Linked DNA regions of Homo sapiens: all the other regions are linked to region 1. The links come from fine-mapping of genetic effects on gene expression. A gene starts in region 1. Each other region holds a variant in brackets. All regions are shown on one strand. Distances are between the middles of the regions. Region 1 holds the start of ITGA6 (integrin subunit alpha 6). Region 2 overlaps LOC107985960 (a long non-coding RNA gene). Region 3 has its middle 47 kb from the start of ITGA6. Region 4 overlaps ITGA6 (integrin subunit alpha 6). Region 5 overlaps PDK1-AS1 (PDK1 and ITGA6 antisense RNA 1). Region 6 has its middle 25 kb from the start of ITGA6.

Evidence for each region. PIP is the estimated chance that this variant, and not a neighbour inherited with it, causes the effect. A credible set is the group of variants that fine-mapping cannot tell apart.
Region 2: its variant is the best candidate, but not a certain one, in a credible set for the expression of ITGA6 in subcutaneous fat (GTEx, PIP 0.78).
Region 3: its variant is the best candidate, but not a certain one, in a credible set for the expression of ITGA6 in fetal neocortex (Walker 2019, PIP 0.50).
Region 4: its variant is the best candidate, but not a certain one, in a credible set for the expression of ITGA6 in whole blood (INTERVAL, PIP 0.64).
Region 5: its variant is the best candidate, but not a certain one, in a credible set for the expression of ITGA6 in naive CD8 T cells (Schmiedel 2018, PIP 0.82).
Region 6: its variant is the best candidate, but not a certain one, in a credible set for the expression of ITGA6 in aorta (GTEx, PIP 0.55).

What each region holds. Positions count from the first base shown.
Region 1 is chr2:172,425,336-172,429,424 of GRCh38, reverse strand. ITGA6 (integrin subunit alpha 6) reads right to left here and starts at 1,839. Exons shown (of 26, transcript NM_000210.4): 1 at 1,455-1,839. The coding sequence starts at 1,636. RefSeq lists an enhancer at 527-1,027 and a silencer at 1,812-1,891.
Region 2 is chr2:172,309,873-172,313,961 of GRCh38, reverse strand. The region is part of intron 3 of LOC107985960 (a long non-coding RNA gene); the gene reads right to left. Among named protein-coding and RNA genes, the nearest start is that of ITGA6, 120 kb to the left of the region's middle. The variant T/C (reference allele first, on the strand shown) is at 2,412.
Region 3 is chr2:172,379,010-172,383,098 of GRCh38, reverse strand. No RefSeq gene overlaps it. Among named protein-coding and RNA genes, the nearest start is that of ITGA6, 47 kb to the left of the region's middle. RefSeq lists enhancers at 1,249-1,418, 1,539-2,050, 2,051-2,560. The variant G/A (reference allele first, on the strand shown) is at 2,147.
Region 4 is chr2:172,467,481-172,471,569 of GRCh38, reverse strand. It overlaps ITGA6 (integrin subunit alpha 6), which reads right to left. Exons shown (of 26, transcript NM_000210.4): 3 at 4,010-4,089; 4 at 2,190-2,445; 5 at 465-596. The region is part of intron 3 of PDK1-AS1 (PDK1 and ITGA6 antisense RNA 1); the gene reads left to right. Among named protein-coding and RNA genes, the nearest start is that of ITGA6-AS1, 3.5 kb to the right of the region's middle. The variant G/T (reference allele first, on the strand shown) is at 2,458.
Region 5 is chr2:172,548,808-172,552,896 of GRCh38, reverse strand. The region is part of intron 1 of PDK1-AS1 (PDK1 and ITGA6 antisense RNA 1); the gene reads left to right. Among named protein-coding and RNA genes, the nearest start is that of PDK1, 5.2 kb to the left of the region's middle. RefSeq lists a silencer at 1-76 and enhancers at 1-76, 2,582-3,323, 3,324-4,066. The variant G/A (reference allele first, on the strand shown) is at 2,065.
Region 6 is chr2:172,400,708-172,404,796 of GRCh38, reverse strand. No RefSeq gene overlaps it. Among named protein-coding and RNA genes, the nearest start is that of ITGA6, 25 kb to the left of the region's middle. The variant T/C (reference allele first, on the strand shown) is at 2,444.

The sequences.
Region 1 (4,089 bases):
AATCATTTCTGCACTAACAAGCTCAAATTCTACACACCAAGTATTCCGAGACAATAAACGTCATCTATTAACTGAGTTAACAGGAACCTTTCATTTCAGATTTACAGCTTAACAACAATTATTTCTGAGAGAAAGCAGAGTATAAGCAGCTGGCCAGGCATATAGCCTCAGACCACCCTCCTAGAGCCTCCCCACCCCCAGCTAATTTCTGTGCTTCACCTAGCAGGTGTTATCAGAAAAAAAAAAAAACTGACTAAAATTCAGGGGCTGCAACATTCACGAATTCCAAAGTTGTTAACCGCTGAAATCAAGAGGTTTCCTCCAGTTCTAAAATCCCATTCGCCTCTCCTAAACACAAAATCTCTTCACTGTGGCTGCACTTTGCTTTCTCCGGTCTGTTGGTCCTGGAAGGTCCTTAGTTCAACTCAAGGCCTGGGTGGGGAGGGGAGACCTTTTGTTGCTACAGCCTATTTTTCAGTAGCACAGATGAAGAATGCAACCCCATAGCGATTAAGGCGACTAAGCGCCAAAATACCCTCTCCGGCTTAAATAGCCGATCATGTGGGAACCAAACACTGTTTAAGAAATAAAAGGAGAGGCCAGTAGTGCCGGTCTCCTCTTTCTCCTGGGAGGTTTACCGCTACGGTGGGGGGTTGTCCCTTACAAACCTTGTTTGCAAAGTCCAGGCTCAGATCGGACATTTTGCTTTAACCCCTTGGCTGTGCCCGCCCAACGCAGGAGCCGAGCGGGTCTCGGGTGCGGCCGAGTACTTTGGGGGCTGGGCACATCACTCAGACTTGTTTTCTCAGCTGATCTAGTCCAGCGAACAGGTGTTTGGTTAATTCCCGCCCCCACCCCCATCTTTTTTTTTTTTTTTTTCAAAGGCATGTAAAAGTATCTCCTAAGGAGCGCCCCCGCCTTGCTGAGAAAGTCATGCAGGACACATGGAAAGTGGCTTTCCAACTTGTGCGGGGCGCGCCAGTCTGCGGGGGAGACGGGGTGCACCGTGAGTTTGGGAAAGGCCTAGACCATCCTGGAACTACGCTCCCTGCAAACCCACAGCAGCGCTGCGGTGACCCTGAACGCCACCCCAGCCCCAAACACACACGTGAAGCTCAGCAAAGCGTGCCACCTGCCGGGGTCCCAGCAAACACGCCCGGAGGGAAGAACCGGCGGAAAGCACTTTGTTTAAAACAGAAAAAAAAGTAAACTCTCCCGGGGCCCAGCCTAGCCCTCGGGTTCTCCTCCTTCCCGAGCTGAATGGAGGGAGGCGCCGCGCGGGGCGGGTCAGGGCGGGGAGCCGAGCGCGCTGGGCGCTGGGTGCGCCTCGGCCGGCCCGGGCGCGACCCACGGGCCAACTACTCCCCGGGGCCGGCGGGAACAGGGCGCGCCCTCGCCTCAACTCGCGCGCAGGCCGGCGCCCCAGTGGGGGTGGGAAGGGTCTGGGAACTCACAGCCGCTTGTCCTCGGGCTGCAGTTGCCAGTGCATGGCCAGCGAGAAGCCGAAGAGGCTCCCGGGGTCTCCATATTTCCGGATCACGTTGTCCTCCCGAGTGTCCAAGTTGAAGGCTGCGCCGAGCCGGGACAGGAGCCCCGCCGACAGGTAGAGCAAGCACAGCTGCCCGGCGGCGGCCATGGGCGGACGCACGGGGAGGGGAGCGGGGACCTGCAGCGGCCGCCCTGCGCTCCGGGCTGGGTCCGAGGCTGCCGCGCTGCTGCTACCGCAGCCACCTTCGCCTCCTCTCGCCGCTGCGCCCGGCCCCACCCCCGGGACGGGTCGCGCTCTCCGTCCGGCCGCTCCCCCTCGCGGGCAGCTCGCGACCGCTGAATGAGCCCGTTGTTCTCTGGAGACTCGCAGGCGTTTTATCAAGTGACGAGGACGCCGGCCCCGCCCCTCCCCACCCTCTCGCCCCTCCTTGCGCGCCCGCGGCCCGGCGCACCGCCCGCACCTTACCCGCCGGCTCTGGCGTCTCCAGCTGCCCGGTACCTGCCCGGAAGCCACGACGTGGGAGCCCCGGAGGCGAGCTCGCGGCGAAGCAGCCCCACTGCGCCGCCCTCTGTGGACAGAATTGTGGTTGCCGAGTAGCACAGAGCGAGGGAGACTTTACTACCCGTTATAAAGAGAAGTGCAGGTGATGCACCGGGCCTCATGGCCTGAGCAGCCTGTTCTTGCAGATGTGGGCCCACGTGCAGATGCATACGTCATTCATTCATTTCTACAGGTGTTTATGGAGCGCTTAAGGCGTGCCCAACACTTGGGGACTACAGCTGTGTAGACTGTTCTGGGTCCTCAAACACCTAACAACCCTCAAAAATGATCACAGCGCACACCTTGATAGTGCTGTATAATGTACACAACCCAGCCATTACCTCAATTCATCCTAACAGTCCTATGAGGTAGGTGTTTCTTTTTGCAGATCAGAAAACCGAAGTTCCGCCTTGTCCCCAGATCACCTAGGATTTTGCCCAGGTGACCAGGAGAGCTTGTGGAAGAAGTCACGCAAGTCAAGGATGGGTTGTTTAAAGTGGCGCCAGGAGCTCAGGCGACGATGCCGTTCTTTCCTAGCCCCGGACTTTCAGAACTAGTTGTGGGGAGAACTGCTGGGCCAAGAGACAGCTCCGAGTTCTGTGTAGGTGGCATGAAGGCTCCTGCCTCCAGGACATGAGGCGGGGCTCCAGTGAGGTGTTGGCCCTAGGGGCAACCTTATCCTGCAGGGGTTCTTAACCCGAGGAGAGGTAATTAATTCAAGAGTACTGTGAACTTGGATGAGAAAAAATTTACGTCTTAATTTTCACCAACCTCTGACATTTAGCACGTTTTGCCATTATGAACGTAGACAACAAACTACAGTAGCAGTAGGATAAGTATTTATGACTTAGTAATCACTAGAAACCATAGGTTTTTACATCACATCACAGTTGTTGCAAGTATCTCAAATAACAGTAGTTATTAGACAATCAGCCAGATATTATATGTCAATAATGAAGCATATATATTGCTCTAGCACAAATTTTTAAAAACATTTTGTTAGCTACATTTCAATATTATTGGCTTTTTTTGTAACCTCTTGTGGTTTCTTTTATGTATTTAAAACCCTTATTCTGAGAAGAACCCCATGGTTTTCAGCAGCCTGCCAAAGGGGTCCCATGGCATGAAAAGGTTGGGACGTGCTGGCCTGAAGCCTTCTGGAATGCCTTGGGGAGCCCTCTTTGGAATCTGACATCCCTGCATTGGAAATACAAGCAGGGTGCAGCCCCAGGAAAGAGCAGGAGCTGTGTGTGCATAGGGGTAGGGGTGGCCTCTTCTTCACCTCAAGGAGTATTCAAGAGAACAGCATGTGCCACTCAGAAAAGCTGCGTGAACATCATCAAGGGTCCCCACAGGTGGTAGCAGCTGTCAGAGTAAGTCCGTCAGTATATTAGGGGTGTGTACCACTTCCTTTCCAATCAGTAACTCCAGTCAATTATAGTCCAAAGTGGGGTGCAGTGGTTTAAATTCAGTAGATGATTTTGGAGAGCACACAGTTTTAACAAATATATCTTGATAAGGTTGAGAAACTATTGGAGACAATCTAGTAAACTAAGAAGTACTTGCAACGTGATTTTTCATGCAAATAAGTTGCAAGTTAGCCTTTTCCCTTCGTGTAAAATATGTACTATTCCAGAGAGATGGGGTCCAGACTATTATAGGCATAGTATAATGAACCTCACTGCAGAGTGTACTCAGCCAGGAGCTGGTGATTTGGCTGTAATGGTTACTGAAATATTCTGAATTGGTTGATAAAAGCTGCTGCCCTTAGTTCCTCACAGGCAACCATCCCTGCCCTGCCCATTTTCCTAGGACTAAGCAACTTCCTCACAACCTGGCAAATGAAAGTTTAAGCCCTTAAGCCCTGATGCAGCAAGGGCTCCCTCTGCTTGGATATCCCCATGTCACACCAGCTGTTAACTATTCTGAATATCACCCCTTGCTTCTAAGAGTAATTCTGTGGACCATTGATTCCTGTCTTCCCAAGATGTGTTTAGTGGATGATGTATGAATGGCCAGAGTTATTTACTTTATCCCAAACACAGATTGTGCTCAAATTG
Region 2 (4,089 bases), 120 kb after region 1:
CACTCTCGGAACACTGCTGCATGCTGAGCCCAGCCAATTGCAGCCCAGCCTGCACCACAACCACCTGCCCTCTGCTCGGCACAGCTCTCCAGCAAAGGGTCTGGGCAGAAGGCTTTGCACTTGTGGTGTGTGCAATGCTTATTTCTTCAACCAGAAAAGTCTTTCTGAGCTTTGTTGAGGGCATCAGATCTCCCTCCGTCGCGCTTATTTTTCAATATAAATGTATAAATGGTGCTTCTATAACAGGATGCCAAGAAGCCCAGAGTCCAGAGAATCTCCTGGGCCCTAAAACCCGGGCTGGCCCAGGCCCTTCAGTTTAGCCTTGAGTCCTGGGTCCAGTCGTGTGCACTGATTGATCAAGGGCCAGTAGTCCATGGTGAAAGAAGGATCTCAAGGCAGAGTTAAGCTCTCCCTCAGAGACCTTGCTACAGCCACACTTAAAACCAGCTCTAGGCAGCTGTGTCCCTGGAGATCCTCTCCCTGGCCGGGCACTACATCCCATTCCATTTCTGTCCTGCCATTCTTTGAGGCCAGGGGAAGACCTGCCTCTCTATAAAGCCTCTCTTGACCACCCCCACGGGAGGCTCTCACTTCTATCGCCCTTCAATCGCTGCGACTGTTACTGTGGACACTGTCTCCTCAGCAAGAGCGTGAGGCACTCAGCTCCTTGGTCTCTTCTCGCATGAAGCATGCTGCTGACATGTGGGAGACACCAGGGCTGTTGAATCAAGAGAGACCGTGTTGTTCCATCCTCCCCTAGACACCACAGTCCAATTCCCGAAAGGACCCAATGTTTCCTGTAGCTGATCACAGGTAGCTGAGTGCCCAGAGGATGGTAAAATAATTTCCATTAAGTATGGACTTCCAGTAAGGATGGACTTACTGCAGTCCATATGGGGTCAAACTCTGAATATGAGCAAGTCTTGCTTCCTTAGTCTCCCTCCCTCCTTTCACCCTCAGCCTTGTTCATGCCTACCGACCTCATCACCAGCATCACCAAGACCTCACAGCCATGAGGTCCCTGAAGTCTGCCCTTTGTTCTGGGAAAGTGGCATAAAATTTTTTTTTTTTTTTTTTGAGACGAAGTCTTGCCTTGTCACCCAAGCTGGAGTGCAGTGGCGTGATCTCAGCTCACTGCAATCTCTGCCTCCGGGGTTCAAGCAATTCTCCTGCCTCAGCCTCCTGAGCTGAGATTACAGGCACTCTCCATCATGCCCGGCTAATTTTTGTATTTTTAGTAGAAACGGGGTTTTACGACGTTGGCCAGGCTGGTCTCAAACTCCTGATCTCAGGCGATCCACCCACCTCGGCCTCCCAAAGTGCTGGGATTACAGGTGTAAGCCACCACGCCCAGCCAATTCTTTTTTCCAAGTAAAGCCCTCATTAGAAAAACAAACGTCTCGCCTGCTCATATTATAACATTTCACAGCATAATTTTGGTATATTTTTATGCTTTTAAAACCTCTTCCCACCAAGGATGAAGAAGAGGTGGAGCAAAGTGAGTGAAGAGATGGATATTTCTGTTACAAACAGGCAAGTTAATGCCTCTCAGAAACGACTGAAGGGGCCTGAAAGGCCTGGAAGAGTAAATGGACCTCCCTAAAGGTACCAGGTCTCCCAGAAGGCAGTGGCCATAGGCCAGCCACTCACAAGGGCCTGGCACTATACAACTGGCCCTGAGCCCATGCAGGGCAGGAACCGGAGGGATCCTCTCCCCCTCGGTATCAAGGTAGGAGCCAATTTGTAGGCAGCCACTTGGGCTCCATTGGGCCACTGAGTACCTTGTCTCACCCATATGTTTTCCCTTTCCTTACAAAGCTGTTTCCTCAGAGGGTTCAGTGAGGAAACTCCTGAATAAACAGAGAGCATGCTGTTGGCCCAAGTTCTCTGAGGTGCACCCCAGGGACACAACCCTGGGCTGAGCCTACTTCCAGGCCTCTTGCCAGCCCTCCTGCCAGTCACAACTGTTGTTTCCATGAAGTAGCTTCTTTCATCTCCACTTACTTCACCCTCTGAAGGAAAAGCTTATGTCTCCAAACAGCAAGGCAGAAGAAATCTCTGAGGCAGATGTCTACCAAAGGTGCTGCAGCCCTCTGCCCTCTCTTCCAGAAGGCCCTCCCCAGCGACAGAACAATGGCTCCAATCATGCCAGGGAGCTCCACAGGCCTCCAGGCTGCCTTCCTTTCAGTGTCTGTTTAGTTCAAGGGCCTCGTCTTGTGTGAGGGGTGTGGGGTGGGCAAAAAGCTGCTGACATGAAAGGCCACAGAGGCACAGACATGGCTGTTATCTCTATTTTACAGATGGTAAAGCTAAGGCTCAGAGATCATATAGCTGAGAATGGACAGAACCAGAAGTCCAGCCCATGTTTGTCTGATTTGAAATCCCAGATCTTAACCATGACCCTCTGTCCA[T/C]GGTGGACCGTTTGGATACATGGGGCCAGTGCCACAAACCAGGTTCATCGTGTGGACAGGAAGGGCCCTGCCAAACTCAAGGATTGGCTCAAGAAATAAATGGGCTGCACCTCAGAAAGGGGGCCAGGGAAAGTGGGTTTTGGTGGCAGCAGATGACCCCATTCTTTGCCAATATTATCATTGCTGTTTTGCTCTTGAGTTTCAGAAATTCAAGAAATAGTAGACAATGTCTACCACTTGCTGGTGCAATCTTGAGCAATTTACCTACTCTCTGCATGCCTCATTTTTCCTCATCTGTAAAATGGAAATATTAAGAGCCCCTATCTCATAGGGTGGTTGTGAGGATCAAGTGAGTTAATATGTGCAAACACCCAGAACAGTGCCTGGCACTTGGTAAGCACTGTATATTGCTGATGAGATCACCACCATCCCCATCTTCATCCACATTACCATCACCTTGGTCTAACACCTCCCTCATATCTCTCCAGGCATTATCAAGCCCTCTTGCTTATTGCTCCCAGAGCTGTTAATGACACCTTTAATAGAGTCCTCATCACTTTGTATCGATGCACTGAATATGAGAAGGATCATAATTTTCCATCTCTGTATCTCCAGTGCCTTCTACAGTGCCTAGCATATAGTCGGTATGCAATAAATGTGTCGAGTACATGCAACATGGTACTTAATTCTAAAAATATGGCTTTCAGACAAGTCACAAAGCCTATTTTTTTTTTCTTTTTGAGACAGGGTCTCACTCTGTCGCACAGGCTAGAGTACAGTGGCACGATCATAGCTCACTGCAGCCTCAAAGTCCTGGGCTCAATCTATCATCTCGCCTCAGCTCCCTGAGCAGCTGGGACTATAGGAGCATACCACCACACCCACGTTTTTCTTTTTCTTTTTTTAAATAGAGATGAGTTCTCCCTATGGTGCCCAGACTGGTCTTGAACTCCTGGGCTCAAGCTTCGGCCTCCCAAAATTGTGAGCCACCACATTTTGCCAAGGTCATCTGATTTTTATAAGATTTAAAAATATGTCTCCCCAGACATACAGATAAGAAGTACACACGATAATATGTGACAATAAAATTGAAAGGGTTTGAAATTGTCAAGTAGGCCAGGCGTGGTGGTTCATACCTGTAATCCCAGCACTTGGGAGGCCAAAGCAGGAGATCACTTGAGCCCAGGAGTTTGAAATTAGCATGGGAAACATGCTAATTTTTGTATGTTTAGAAACCCTGTTTCTACAAAAAAAAAATTTAAAATTAGCAGGGCATGGTGGTGTGTACCTATAGCCTCAGATACTTGGGAGGCTGAGGTGGGAGGATCTGTTTGAGCCCAGGAGTTCAAGGCTGCAGTGAGCCAGGATCAGGCTACGGCACTCTAGCTTGGGCCACAGAGCAAGACTCTATCTCAAAAATAAATAAACAAATAAATAAGTAAAAATAAATAATAAATTGTGAAGTGTTGAAGACGTAAGAAATTTCCATTGTGATAATCATTGTATCAAATAATACTAACAAACCCCATCTGAGGTCCTGATGACCTAGAGATCCTCTCCCTCTTCAGCATTTAAAGACTCAGAAGTAGATATGGTTCCTGAGAAATAGCCCCATGAATGTTGCCCTAAATAAAACACTTTTCCAGGCTGGAGGCAGTGGCTCATGCCTATAATCCCA
Region 3 (4,089 bases), 46 kb after region 1:
ATGATCTGTACAACAAACTCCTATGACATGAATTTACCTATATGACAAACCTGCACATGTACCGTTGAACCTAAAATAAAAGTTTTAAAAAAAAACCCAAAGAACAGTTATATAAGTTTTCTGAAATTTGTGGCCAAAAAAGTAGTTGTAGTATTACAGGAAAGGGGTCCTGATCCCAACTCCAAGAGAGCGTTCTTGGATCTCATGCAAGAAAGAATTCAGGGTGAGTCTGTAAAGTGAAAGCAAGTTTATTAAGAAAGTAAAGAAATAAAAGAATGACTACTCCACAGACAGAGCAGCCCCAAGGGCTGCTGGTTGCCTGTTTTTTTCTCTTTTTTTGAGACGGAGTCTCGCTGGGTTGTGCAGGCTGAGTGCAGTGGTGCCAACTCGGCTCACTGTAACCTCCACCTCCCAGGTTGAAGCGATTCTCCTGCCTCAGCCTCCCCAGTAGCTGGGACTACAGGTGTGTCCCACCATGCCTGGCTAATTTATGTATTCTTGGTACAGATGGGGTTTCACCATGTTAGTCAGGTTGGTCTTGAACTACTGATCTCAGGCAATCCACCCGCTTTGGCTTCCCAAAGTGCTGGAATTACAGGCGTGAGCCTGGTTGCCTATTTTTGTTTTGTTTTGAGACGGAGTCTCACTCTGTCGCCCAGGCTGGAGTGCAGTGGTGCAATCTCAGCTCACTGCAACCTCCGCCTCCTGGGTTCAAGCAATTCTCCTGCCTCAGCCTCCCCAGTAGCTGGGACTACAGGCCACCTGCCACCACACCTGGCTAATTTTTGTATTTTTAGTAGAGATGGGGTTTCACCATGCTGGCCAGGATTGTCTCGATCTGTTGACCTCATGATCAACGCCCCCCTTCTCGACCTCCCAAACTGCTGGGATTATAGGTGTGAGCCACCGCTCCAGGCCGCCTATTTTTATGGTTATTTCTTGATGCTATGCTAAACAAGGGGTGGATTATTCACGCCTCCCCTTTTTAGGCCATATAGGGTAACCTCTTGATGTTGCCATGGCATTTGTAAACTGTCATGGTGATGGTGGGAGTGTAGCAGTGAGGACCACCAGAGGTCACTCTCGTGGCCATCTTGGTTTTGGTGGGTTTTAGCCAGCTTTTTTACTGCAACCTGTTTTATCAGCAAGGTCTTTATGACCTGTATCTTGTGCTGCCTCCTGTCTTATCCTGTGACTTAGAATGTCTTAACTGTCTGGGAATTCAGCCCAGTAGGTCTCAGCCTCATTTTGCCCAGCTCCTATTCAAGATGGAGCTGCTCTGGTTCACATGCCTTTGACAGTAGCAAAAAGCAGTCCCCTCTCATTTCAATCCCATTGTTGTTCTTTTTTTCTGAGTTTTTAATTCCTTAAATCTCTATGCATAGCTTTTGTTCCCTAAATGTGGTTATGAGTTCAAGATGGCCCACTGCTCAGACCTTCCTTAAGTGTGGAGGCTTTCTGTTGGCTGTGGACTACCCCAGAGTTATCCCTGACAGGCAAACACTCATAGGCCACTGTGTCAGCCAGCTATGGGTGCCTGTCTAGAAGGCCACTCACAGGCAAGATGCAGATGGATGAAGGCACACAGACCTGCTTCCTCAAAAGATGCATTTTTTCAGTTTGTTTTTGATTAACACATCCTTCTGCCCACCCCTGACACCAGGGTAGGTTCATCAAAATCTATGGAAATGTCCGTAGGTTGCAGGAAGGTCCCCTGATTCTGAAACACAGGGCTGGAGAGAAGGCACAGTATTCCAACGGAATAATTCACAGAACCACTGGCAGAGAGTAAAGGAATTCTTGGCTTTATCTGGGTTCCCCTCCCCCCACTTCATTCAACATTTTAAAATACTTTCACCTGCTTCAGTGAAGGCACAGCTAGGGAACTTGTTGACTACCACGTGCTGTTATTTTAGTTAATATCCTTCTCCCCAGAGCTGAGCTTGTTTGCAGGAGGGCTTTGCAATGCGTGGCTTTCTTTCCATCCTGATAAGCTTCATTTCCAAGCTGGTGGCTCTCCGAAATTCTTTTGCAAAACAGAGCCTCAGATCTCTCCCTCCTTCCTGGTTCTATGGAGATTCTATATGAGAATTTAGAACAAGGCTCAGCATTCACCAGAATCGCCTGGGCTTCTTTTCTCTCCTGC[G/A]ATTGCTATGTTAATGAATCTGTTGGATGTCGCTGTGACCTACAAGCTCCTACCCAGCGGGAGAGCCCTGCATCTAAACTGCTGATATGTCACACTAAGAAAGGAAAAGAGGCCCTGCCTGGCCAGGCAGAGGGGCAAGGGGGTTTGGGAAGCCTTCCAAGACTCAGATCATTGTGTAGAGATGTAAAACATCACAACTCTCCTTGTTATTACTGGTGATAAATGGCTGGGCAGGCAGATCTGCACCACAAGAATTGCTGAAATTGAGGAAACCTTGTGGAATGAACAAGCAATTGAGGAGGAAGTGAGAGGCCGATGGCAGTGTGACCTTAGTGGCAGAAAAGCCATATGTCATGTTGCTGTAACAATTTATGGCAAATATTTCTCTGTCTGGGGTTTGCCTTTAAATAGAAATCACAAATGATGCAAGCTCAGGGTCATCACCTCCAAGTGCAAAGTCCTGCCAGTGGAGAAAGCTGCATGGAAGGGTTTCACAGGTTTGGGGAACTTTTGGCATGAAAGAGCCCAGCTCTTTGAGTTTGAGTTTCATCTACTCTTTTTTTAAGGATGAGTGGATATGTGAAAGTTGCAGTTGGAAATGAGCAGCTTCTCATAGACTTTTAACAAACTCAGGGCTTGTTAAAACAAGGATGAGGGGGCTCATCCCTGTGTCTGAATTCTCAGCAGCTCAGATCCCTGGCTTGTTTCTTGGGGATCCCATCCATGAGGACTGACATGGTTTGGCTGTGTCCCCATTTAAATCTCATCTTGTAGTTCCCATAATCCCCACATGTGGTGGGAGGGACCTGGTGGGAGGTAATTGAATCATGGTGACAGTTTCCCCCATGCTATTCTCATGATAATGAGTAAGTTCTCACGAGATCTGATGGTTTTATTTATTTTTTTTTGAGACGGAGGCTCACTCTGTTGCCCAGGCTGGAGTGCAGTGGCGTGATCTCGGCTCACTGCAAGCTCCACCTCCTGCATTCATGGCATTCTCCTGCCTCAGCCTCCCGAGTAGCTGGGAATACAAGCACCCGCCACCACGCCCAGCTAATTTTCTGTATTTTTTTTTAGTAGAGATGGGGTTTCACTGTGTTAGCCAGGGTTGTCTCGATCTCCTGACCTCGTGATCCACCCGCCTTGGCCTCCCAAAGTGCTGGGATTACAGGCATGAGCCACCGCGCCTGGCCGGTCTGATGGTTTTATAAGGGGCTTCCCCCTTCACTTGGCTCACATTCTTCTCTCTCCTGCCGCCTTGTGAAGAAGGACATGTTTGCTTCCTCTTCAACCATGATTGTAAGTTTCCTGAGGCCTCCCCAGCTGTGTGGAACTTCGAGTCAATTAAAACTCTTTCCTTTATAAATTACCCAGTCTCAGGTTATGTCCTTACAGCAGCATAAGAATGGACTAATACAAGGACCTTCACGAGTATCTCAGGCCTAGCAATGCCCACTAGTCTGGACAAAGGCATGCATGGCTGTGGAGACCCTCTGGCACCATGTCAGCCACACACATTTCTTAGTTTCATCTCTGTTACTTCACAGACAATGCTGGAAAAGTACAATAGATGACTGGGTTGAGTTACCTCTCTACAACACAGGGAAGAAAATGCTCAAGGCCATAGGAAACTGGGCAGACATTCCAGAAATAGGATGTCCAGGGATTCAAAGACAATGCCATCATGGGGACTGGCCATAGGGAGCGCTTGATCCAGGAATGGGCAGAAAGTAGTGCCATTCGGCTCCCCAGCTGGTGAAAGGAACAGCCATCCTTTGGCTTCCACCTGGGGAACCACCTGGAGACCCCTGGTGTTGGGTAACCACCTTCAAACTGCAGTTCTGTCTGCCCCTCCCCTGCATCACTCAGGAACTTGCCTCTCCATCCTCTGGACCTCATGGTAAATGCATACCCTTGCATTTCCTCTGGGACAATTGTCTCTT
Region 4 (4,089 bases), 42 kb before region 1:
CAATCACAGAGGGAGGACCTGGAGGTCTTGACTTGCCACTTAAGAGTAACTTTATTAAATGCAGTTCTTAAGAGTATCTCTGGAAGGAGGCACTGAACAAAGATCTCAGCTTACTGTGAACACCCATGCATGTTTTCATGGCTGCATGAGCGGCCTGTTTCAGGTTACGGAGGCTGCCATTAGCTCAAGAGACAGACTTCTGAGCAGGAGGGAGGACGGATGATTTTAGGTGATAAGAGGTTTCTTCCCCCTTTGAGGGAGCCCCAGTCAGAAGGAAAGGATCCCAGGCATCAGTCGGTTTAACGCCTCTAGATCACCAAGCTTATCAAATTCCAGCAAAAGTGGCCCGGCCCCACCTGGCCTCTTCTCAGCCTAGAAGTCCAGGGGCCATAGGCCCTGCGAGGGAGTTTCACACAAGGTATCTGAGAAGGTGGGCAAAGGCAGCCATCTGTGCCTGCTCCTACCTAAGTAACTGTTAGCAGGAACAGGAACGAGACTTTCATCATGCTCAGTCTCTCCACCAACTTCATAAGGCCCATCTTCAAAGATGTTCATGTCAAAAAAAGTGTTATTCTTTTGCTCTACACGAACAATCCCTAAAGGAATGAAATGGTAAAAACAACAAAAAAATGAAGATGAAACAAAAGAAAATAAATGGTTCCTAATAAACATCCCCCATGCTATCACTAGTTACAGGAAAAAAAATTTGGAGGAAAAAAAGGAAGGACAGAGATGACTTTTATGGTTGTAAAATACATTTGTGTAAATTTTTATGGGAAAGAAATTTGTTTGAGTCATTAAAAACTGTCCCATGCATTTTCATGAACTATCTTTATAATGCCATGAAACTAGATGAAAAATGGAAGGTTTGCTTAGTTAACAAAATCTACAGAGAACCAATTTTTAAATGACATGAACTTGATATATATATTTTACATTCTCTGTAATCCTGCCTCAATTTGTCTTTTTTTTGCAGTGTAAAAGTGAGACATATTGATCTTTTCTTTAGATCACTTTAACCAAGATTTCATCTTTTAAAAATTCTTACAATTAGTAATTTAAAACATAAGTTTTCATATAGTAAGCCCAAATCACTATATGGCTTTAAATGGCGACATTTTAGGTCAGGTTTATAAAGCAGGTAAACCATATTTTCCATGAATTAAAATATACATAATTGGTGGATATTTTTGTTTTGTTTTACTATATAAAGCATTTATTCATGCTAAAATAAAACTAAATTCAACATGTTATTTCAGTTAGGTCAAAATAACCTGGGAAATACTGTACATGAAGATTCTGTTGGGGTGGAGGTGGGGGCAAAGGGAAATTACCCTTGAAGATTGCACACAGAGAAAGGTGTTCAAGAGTCATTTAGAACCACAATTAAAACAAATTGTTGAATGGAAAAGGGACCATTTTCCTAAGTTTTCCCTGATGAGTGAAAGTGTTATGTGACTTATTATTAATACATTTCTCAAAAATGGCTTATTTCCAAATCAGATGCAGTTCTCTTCATCATGGATGAGAGTTAGGTTGTCTTTTATGATATAGCATTTTCTATACATACACAGTCAAAAAATGTGGGCCATTTTCTTCTTTACCTCTCTACATCTCCATTTACTCACATCACAATAATCAAACGACTTTTCCTCACATATCTGAAATTATACCTCAAAATTCCCCAATTCGTCTGTAATCTGCCCTTCTAACTCTACTGAATTATTAGCAAAGCATGGCCTTTGAAAATAACATATACAGAGAGAAATGTCCATATTAATACTCTGTTATTAATGTCCATGTTAATACACTGTTATTTGTATATACCATTATTTAATCCTCCTAAGTTTTCAGATCACTAACTTAAAATTAACACTTCCAGCTTCATGAGTCGCACAAATCTAAAACAGCAAAAAATACTAATGTTAATTATTATATTCCTGCTAAAAAAAAGTTAACTACCTGAATTAAAGTAAAGTACTGGTAGAGGGGAAAAGAATGTCAACACCAAAACATATATTCCACTATTATTAGCTTTTAAAAATCATATCATTTAGAGATTTTTAATATCCTACCCAACTTTTATAATATACGAATGTCTTCTAACACATTTTAGCTCAAAATGTACTAAATCATATTACAGAAATTAGGGGAACTAATCTCTATTTCTATAAATACAAAGGTCATACCTTTCCAGTTATAAGTACCCGGGGCTCCAAATACAATGTAATGAAAGTCTTTAGTAAAAGTAGCTGCTACACCTTGCTGGCAAGAGCCAAATTTCTCATGGCCTCTCAATCGCCCATCACAAAAGCTCCAATCTCCCCCATCCATATCGTCTTCAATCCTGAGATTCTGACTCAGGACATAACACCGCCCAAAGATGTCTCGGGATTCCTGCTTCGTATTAACATGCTGCCTTTTTTCATATCGGTGAGCACATGTCTGCAAGCAGAT[G/T]GAAGAAAGTAGCCCATTCTTGTCTATAAACCTTGTTTTTAAAAAATTACATATGAATAAAATGGTCAATACAGAGGTTAATTCTAAAGAGGATGATTAAGCATGTCCTCATCTTGGGACCGGATCCCAGACCAGCAAATATTCCCCAAAGTGGCACTAAGGAGACCATTATGAAGACATATAGAAACTAGAATGTGCCTTATTCTCACTCAGAATAATCCTCCAATCCAAAATTGAATGACAATCTGTATCCATAGGCAATTTATTTGTAAATTTACCTGTCACATAAACAAAGAGAAACACCTTATTTCATTTTCTTAATTCAAATTGGCTTTTAGTGGCTGTATAAACCTTCAGAACATCAGTGTGAAAGTGGGTAATTATGTTCTAGAGGAGAGAAATCATGGACCTGTTTTCATAGGGATCAAACAAACACAGCTAAAACAAAGACATTTCCTTTTCCCCACACTATTTCCTTGTAATCAGTCCTAACTTACACCCTGAGCTCTGAGATTATTTCCCAAAATATGCCTACTTTTAAAAGGCAGAGAGAATTACAAGGCCAGAAGAGACAGAAATAATCTCTATAATTTCTACAGGGTATGAATGGCTAACCTCCATGTAAACACAGCCTAAAAATACAGTATCAAATCAATTTTCCATAAATGTCATTCCTTAAATATCAAAACTCAATGTTCACTAAATTTTTTTTCTCAAAATTCTGTATAAATTTCGTTACAGCAACCAGATTTTGAAGGAGACAAAAAGATCATATTCCAACCAGGAAGGCCTTACCATGACCATCTAGCCCAATCCACCTAACAAACCCTCTTTTCTTTGCTATCCCTTCTATTTGAAAAAACTCAGAATAAATAACAAGAGGTTAAAACTACCTGGTTATTACTTTCTAAGACCATGCCCATATTTTTACTAACTTATCTATAAAGCTATAAAATTCCAAGGACAGAAATGATGTCTAGTTTTGTTTTGTTTTTAATACCATCTAGAGTTGTAGGAATATTTAGTAAAGGTTCTTTAATAAGTTATTTAAATCTGAAAGTTCTAAAGAAAAGTAGGTTGTGTGATTGCTTCTAAGTATATCAGGAATCACAGGAGAAATAAGGCTTTGATTACGTGATTACTTCTTCTTTTTTTTTCTTTTTTTTGAGATGGAGTTTTGCTCTTGCAACCTCCACCTCCCAGGTTCAAGCGATTCTCCTGTCTCAGTCTCCCAAGTAGCTGGGATTACAGGCGCATGCCACTACGCCCAGCTAATTTTTGTATTTTTAGTAGAGATGGGGTTTCATCATATTGGTCAGGCTGGTCTCAAACCCCTGACCTCAGGTGATCCGCCCGCCTTGGCCTCACAAAGTATTGAGATTACAGGCATGAGCCACCACGCCCAGTCTGATTTCTTTTTGACATCCATTCCTGCTTTAAAGCAGTAAGTTCGCTAGAATGTATGCTCCCTGCTGTCCCCTGCTGTAAGCCTGGTGCTGGCACATAACCAGCAGTCCAACAGTATAGGATGAACATGTGTCTCTACACTTACCACGACCTTGCCCCCTGGACCTTGGCTCTGGACGGTGACCCCCATCCACTGATCTTCCTTGCTTTCTGACGTGGGGTCAG
Region 5 (4,089 bases), 120 kb before region 1:
TTTATTCCTGACCCAACCAATCAGCATTCCCCATTCTATAGCCTGCTGTCTGCCAAACTATAAAAAAACCCTAGCCTCTGAATTTTCAGGAGGTTAATTTGAGTAGTAATAAAACTCATCTTCTGTTTAGCCAGCTCCACATGCACTAAACTCTTTGTCTTGATAAATTGGCTCTATCTGGTCAGCAGGCAAGAAAAACCTATTGGATGGTTACATGAGGACACAGCAAGAAAGCCCTTATGAGACACTGAGTTCCGGCATCTTGATCTTGAACTTCACAGCCTCTAGAACTGTAAGAAAACTAATTTCTGTCATTTATAAATTATCCAGACTGTATTTTGTTACAGCACCACTAACAGACTAAGACACACATGTAGATATAAAGTGTAATCATACTGTAAGCTTCTATAAAAAAATTTTTACATAGCAGACATGAGCCAGCCCCTGTAAATTCACTGAGAATTTGTGATCCATGTTGGACTGATGTGACTGAAAGGAATGGAAAAAGCAATACAAAACAAGCTAGACTGTGTCACCTTGTCCCCAGTACCCTCTGGCTTCATGAGGTTCAGAAGACAAAAGGAAAGAAAAGTCATATTTTTTCCCCCTGCTTCTTTTCTTCCAAGCTATAATTTGTGTTCCTCTAAGTGTGGCCATAGCTTCCTACCCTTGTCCAGTATCCATAGAGATAGTACTAATTTTTCTCTGTTGCTGATTGGGTGCTCACCAGCCCTGGAGGTTTAATTCTGCCCACACTCCTGTAAATAGTCCCTTCATTAATTAATTAATCAATTTCCCTTTTGAGTGTGCTATCATTTCCTGCCCTAGAACCCTTTTTGATATGCTGGAAAGATAATTTTCAAAAAAGGTAAAATAATGACTCTCATGCAGCTATAAAATGAACATGTGTCAAAAATTTTATTTAATACATTAATTAAATGAGGGAACCAGTAAAGATATTATAGCCAGTTCAAAGGAGAAGTGAAAAAACAGGAATTCAGAAAAATTTGCAAAGGCTGTAAAACTGGCTCTTTCCTTGGGAATCAGGGAGGGTTGCCCTTCTACCTGACAGAATTTATTTGCACATGTATAGGTAAGAATTATGTGCGTTGTTACCATTTATCTGCAATTTACAGAGTTGTAAAATAGCTCAAAGACAGTGAATTGGAATCAGATACCCTGAAAAGTTGTGCTCTAAACAATACGTAATATTCCACTGAAGCATAATTTTTCTCCATATACATTTGCCTTCTTTCTTTAAAGGGTACTTTGATTCAGGTAATTACTTGTGTAGTGATATGAGGGCATCCTATTCACCAGGATTTATTTAGCACAAACATAGTTTTTATCTGGAGTAAGTGCTTTGAAATGCTGATGGAGTGGAAGGAGAGATCTGTAGGGAAGGCTCAGAACAGCTTTACAGGAAGCAAGGAGAGGAATTCACTTTGTAGAGCAAAGGGGAAGGGGAGGAGGCAGAAGATTGCAAAGACTGTTCACAATGTGAGCACTCCTTATAACCCAAACCTTCAGTAAAGTTTGCAAAAAAAGAGAGATTATTGGATACTGAAGCTTTTATGTGTTGTGCTTTTGTGAAAATTGGAGGAAAGGATGAATTTTTTTTATGAGAGTTTGTGGCAATGGAGATAGACTTTGCACACAAAGAGTCTGAGTGGTGGTGGGGTGGGGGGTACTATAAATGAGACTATGAGCCTCAAGAATTTACAGACATGGACAGGGAGAACTCTAGACTTTCACAAACTGAGACTGGTAATGTTAAAAGATAAATTTGGGCACATTAAAAGTTTTAAAAATTTATTTGAACTGTTGATTTAAAAAAAAGACTCAAACTCTGTAAAATATTTTAAGAGATTTATTCCGAGCCAAATGTGAGTGACCAAGGCCTGAGGCACAGTCCCAAGAGGTCCTGAAAACATGTGCCCAAGGTGGTCGGGTCATAGCTTGATTGTGTACAGTTTTAGGGGAACAGAAGTTGCAGGCAGACATCACTCAGTACATGTAAAGCGTACACTGCTTTGGTCTGAAAAGGCAGGACAACTTTAAGAC[G/A]TAATATAGGGGGATTGGGAAACTTGTGGCAGGAGGGGGCTTCCAGGTTATAGGGAGAGTCAAAGATTTTCTGACTGGCAATTGGTTGAAAGAGTTAAGTTACTATCTCAAGACCTAGGATCAATTGAAAGGAGTGTCTGGATTAAGACAAGGGGTTGTGGAGACCAAGATTCTTATTACACAGATAAAGGTCCCACATAGCAGGCTTCAGAGAGAACAGATAGTAAATGTCTCTTATCAGACCTAAAAAGGTGTCAGACCTTAAAAGGAAAAACCTGGAAAGGGAAGGGGATCCTCTACAGAATATAGATTTTCCCCAGAAGAAATAGCTTTGCAGGGCTAGTTCAAAATATGTCAAAAAAATATGTTTTGTAGTAAAACACTTCAGTTTATTTCAGGACCTGCTATCTGTCATGTGTTGCTACTGAGGAGTAAATTCTGATTTTTTTATCTTGCCCAAATTCCTATCTAAGAGTTCTGGGGAGTCATGCCCTACAAACCATAAATTCTCATCAGATGGGTTTTATTTAACCCTATATATCGAGACTTACTTTTCACCCTGACTCTGGAATAACATTACATGACAAGGAAGAAAAGCAAAATATTTTATCCCAAAACATGTTTTTTTGCCATATCTTGAAATGGCCCTGCAAATCTGTCTTTTGTGGGGGAAAATTTGCATCAGTAAAGAATCTCTATTAACATAGCTAGATCTTTTACTTCCAGGCCCTCCCAATCCTAAAAAGATTAACTTAAAGTCTAGCACCTTTTAAAGATCTGAATAGGAAACGTTTGTCATCTGTTGTCTCTGAGGGCAGCCACAATAAAACTTCAAAAGAACCTTGGTCTCCACAATCCTTTATCTTAACCTGAACATTTCCTTTCTGTGATCTCAGGTCTTTAGATAAACTCAACCAATTGTAAATCAGAAAATGTTTAAATTTACCTATAGCCTGGAAGCCCCAACTTTGAATTGTCCTACCTTTCAGGACTAAACCAATGTATTTCTTAAATGTATTTGATTGATGTCTCATGCCTCCCTAAAATGTATAAAACCAAACTGTGCCCCAATCACCTTGGGCACATGTTCTGAGGACCTCCTGAGAGCTGTGTCACGGGGCCATGGTCACTCATATTTGGCTCGGAATAAATCTCTTCAAATATTTTACAGAGTTTGGGAGTCCTCGGCCTCCCAAAGTTCTGGGATTACAGACGTGAGCCACTGTGCCCAACCTTGTAACTGTTTCTTATCAGACTTTAAAAAGGTGCCAGAGTTAGTTAATTCCCTTCTGAATCAGGGAAAGTACTTGGAAAGGGAAGAGGATTCTCTGTAGAATGTAGATTTTCCCCACAAGAGACAGCTTTGCAGGGCCATTTCAAAATATGTCAAGAAATATATTTTGGGATAAAATCTTTAGTTTCTTGCAGAACCTGCTCCTTGTCATGTTGGTATCTTAGGCTACAAACAGTCTGTTTTGTCAGATGTAAAATCTCTATGTTAATGTTAATGCTGGTCAGCTGTACCTAAATTCCAGAAGGGAGGACAGAATAATGAGACATGTCTGACCCCGCCTTCCCATCATGGCCTGAACTAGTTTCTCAGGTTAACTTTGGAATGCTCTTGGCCAAAAGGAGGGGTCCATTCAGTTGGTTGGAGGGTTTAGAATATATATATTTTTTGAGACAGAGTCTCACTCTGTTGCCCAGGCTGACGTGTAGTGGCATGATCTCAGCTCACTGCAACCTCCGCCTCTTGGGTTGAAGTGATTCTCCAACCTCAGCCTCCCGAGTAGCTGTGATTACAAGTATGTGCCACCACACCTGGCTAATTTTTGTAATTTTAGTAGAGATGGGGTTTCACCCTGTTGGTCAGGCTGGTCTTGAACTACTGACCTCAGATGATTTGCCCACCTCGCCTCCCAAAGTGGTGGGATTACAGGCCTGAGCCACTGCCCCAGCCGAATTTTATTTTTGGTTTACAAGGGAGAAGCTCATTGGGTAAACCAACTAAGGAGGGGCAGAATA
Region 6 (4,089 bases), 25 kb after region 1:
AACTATTTTATTGCATTTATGTATTTCATAAAAGAATGTGGGGGTTATATTTATATGCCAGCAAACTTCATGAAAATGACAAAACGGTGGAGCTTGCATCAGGGGACACTGATTAATAACTCATTCCCATTGAGTTGCTTGAAAGAAAGTGGCAGCAAATTATTCCATGGGTTCTAGACATTCAAACTCTATACTTGTTAAAACGTGAAAAAATAAGTAGTAGTGCCTAATCTAGGATGAAACCTAGCCTTATTTTGTAGGAGTAGAGCTGGAAAGGGGGAAAATAGTAAATAGCATGCAATACATTTTGAATTTTGGCTGATAGTAGGCCATGTATACACATATTTTAAACAAAAATTAAATTAAAAAAAAATTTTTTTGCCCTGCCACATAAGTGCTTCTCAATTACAGTTTTTTCTGCTTCCCCTCTTGACTTCATTGATTTTGTGTGAGCCTGCAAGTGTGCACATTCTTTGAATATAAATTGCTTTAATTAAAAACCACCTGAGCCACAGAGTTCACTCTGGTTCAGGAAATTCAATTCTCAGCTTGGCGGGGTGAAGATTTAGTAGAAATGATTTTACATCCTGGTTGCCCTTCCAAAGGAGCTGTGACTTTTCCAGGACAATCTCTTCTTTGAACCCAACATGAAAACACATTAGTGCTCTTTTCAGAACAAAGAAATGTACATAGGAAATAAAGACATTGTTTTATCAAAGCCTCATCTTCTACTCTGACGTAAACTGGCTGGGAAAGAAAGTGTCTCCTTCCGAGAGGAAAGTGGTTCAAGTCTGTTTTCTCCATACTCAGAAATCTTACTCACTTGCAATTATAAAAAAGTAGATGCGAGCTTTCCCATTTTCTCTTCTCTAGCATTTTGTCCCGATCTTCCTCAGTTTGTCCAGCACAGGTTGTGAGCCCACTGCCACCCAGTGAATGTGAATTACTGACTGGATAGCCAGGCTTGGTCTGTGCTCTTTTATCTGAATGGCAGCTGACACATTATTCATCAGATTTATTTGAGCTGGCTTTGCCTCCTTCTAGGATGAGGAGGAGCACTGTTGTCAGAATCCAGGCTGCTCAGAACACAGAAGAGAGCAACAACCCCTATCTTGCAGCCTGTCTCTACATGCATGGCCTCCACCCTGGGCCCCAAAGACAGCCTGGCTGAGACCAGTTCAGGGTACATTTGTCTTGGGTATTCCGCCTACTCCATCCATATCCTCTGACACACATGGCGTGTCTGTGGTGGCCCCCTGGCTTGCCACTGCATGTAGCCAAGAGCCAGCTTCCTTCTGTTTACTTCAGAGCTCACTCATGGCCCCAGACAATCCCTCTCCACCCATAGACTCAATCGTGAGTGTGCAGCGACAAGGCCCTTGCTGCATCCCATTGTCTCTGGGAGTCTTTCCAGTACCCCCTTTCAGGGCTCCCTCTGGCTTCTTCTCGCTTCTGGATTCTCCACCTACAAGTGTGGACTTGATGCAGACCTACCACTGCCCTCATTGATGGATCCCAAATCCAGCCCCATTCCCTTGTATTACCCGTCTGAGGTCTGAGAATCCCAGCTCACTGAAAGGCTTGGGCACTCTCCACAAGGTGCCTAATAAAGACATATCCCAGGATATGATAGGACTGTGGGACCGACAAAATGCCCAGATTGTGCTCATTGTCTCTGAGTTTATTCTCCTCCTAATATGAAGAGTAACAGAAGTCTAGTTGTGCAACTAAACAGTCTGGTACCCGAGGACGTTTAAGGAATATCTAAACCAAGTGTTGACAAAAGTCACATTAAACAAGCCAAGCACTCCAGAAGATACAAACAAAAAGGTATATAATAATCTGCCACTCTGAGTAGTTAAAGAGACATACGTTTAAAAATATTTTTTCTACACTGATTTAGCACCTTCTATATATGCCAGGCATTGTACTATGGGCCAGATAACAGAAATGAATAAAGACCACTTGGTTAGCACAAGGAACTTTACAATGCAATGGGGAAAATGAGACACACAAACAAATAGCAATGATGCAGTAATGGATGTGTGCTGGGAACAGCAGGGACTGCAGCAGAGTAAGAGGCTCTGAGTGGAGGCGGTGGGTTACTCCCCAAACATTTATCCTAGGCTTATTAAGCTCTGATACTAGGAATAAAGTCCCTATTTTCAAGGGGCTCACCTGTTACTAGGAGAGCAAGATAAACAAACAGGTGCATGCCAAACAGCATGATAATGAGCAAATAGGGATATATATGGGATGCAGTGGAACTCAGAGGAGGGGCTCTAACCATAGGTAATACTCAAGATCTTTAACTCACCATCGGAAATGACTCCAGCAGTAAACAATTGACTCTATAAATGGCTGCACTGTCTTATTAGGAAAAAACCCTCTCCCAGCCCAGACTGGATGGCCCAGGAGCTTCCTGGAGGAAGTGAGGCCTGAT[T/C]AGCCACTTGAAGGACAAGTAGAAATAGACCAGGCAAGGGCATTTTAGAGAGAGATAACAGTAAATGCAAATGCTTGGTGGTGTGAGAACAGAGAATCAGCATTCCTTCCCTAAACACCCCCAGTGAGCACCCAGACCACATGCACCTGGGGGTTCTCAGAAGCAGGCCTTGTGGAACAAGGCAGCTCACTCAAGTCATTAGAAGTGACATTTGAAGATGGTCAAGATTCAAAACAACACACACACACGCATCCACCCATGCATGCCTGTATGCACACAGCACACACGTGATACTGCTGTTAATAACTAGAAGCCCAGGATCCACCCTGGATAATGAAGATCAACCACTGAGCCAAGGATGAAAAGGGAGAGACTGGCAAATCAAGAAAAGCAGATCAATACAGAGGGAAACATAAAAGAACAGCCCTGAAAAAATTTCCCCCAGAGAAAAAAAGATTAAGGTCAAACTATAAAACTGCTCTAATTATAAATCTACTTAGTGGCTTAAGTGAACATACATTAATAAGACAAAATGCAAAAATGAAAATTAAATGGAAAATAAGCAAATGTAACAAATACAATGTCTGATGTAAGAAAGTAGGAGGCAGCTGGGCGCAGTGGCTCATGCCTGTAATCCCAGTACTTTGGGAGGCCGAGGCAGGTGGATCACTTGAGGTCAGGAGTTCGAGACCAGCCTGGCTAACATGGTGAAACCCTGTCTCTACCAAACATAAAAAATATTAGGCAGGCATGGTGGCATGTGCCTGTAGTCCCAGCTGAGGTACAAGAATCACTGGAACCCAGGAGGCGGAGGTTTCAGTGAGCCGAGATCATGCCGCTGCACTCCAGCCTGGGTGACAGAGCAAGACCCTGTCTCCAAAAACAAACAAGAAATGTAAGGCATTTGTAGTTTCTGCCTGCCCAGAACCCACCCTATTCTTCTGTAAGGGAGACCTCCTTTCTCTTGAGGGGCTCAGGCCCTACAGTTCAGCTGGAGCTAACCCTTACCTCTCCTCTGCCACAGGTGTGGGAATAGGACTTGGGCCTGTTCAAGGTGGCCCATTACCTCTAGTTCCAGTGATGGGTTCACACGTGAGCATATGATTTAGTCCTCTCCCAGGACTTTCCTGGTGGACTTAATGTGAAGAAGCTCTTCCTCAGTGGGAGTTGCTAAGCAGGTTGCATGTGAGCCCCAGAATGCTTGAAACCATCTTCACCAGTGGTGGGAGGTGAAGCTTGATTACATCATTTCGACTCCTGGAGCAGCTATCCATCCTGGACTTTTCTGGTATTTGAGCTAATTCCCACTTTTACTTAAGCTAATTTGAGTTGGATTCTGTCACTTGAACCCCAAAAGGTCCTGATTAATTGAAGAAAACTTTCAATCACTAAAATAATGGTTTCAAGTGACAGGCACTCTGGCCCAAAACTGACTTTCCTAAATGGCCAGACCCTACATACACTGAACACTCATAAATGGAAATATAGGAAGAGAGAGCTAGATAGCATTCACAGAATGCATTTGGTTCTGATTTGTTAAAGAATTACTGGTACAAAAAGTTTAGGCCAGCAAAAAAGCACCATAATAAGGTGTCTCCCAAAAACATTTTGCATATGTCAGAAATACTACCCAATTGATTCCTTCA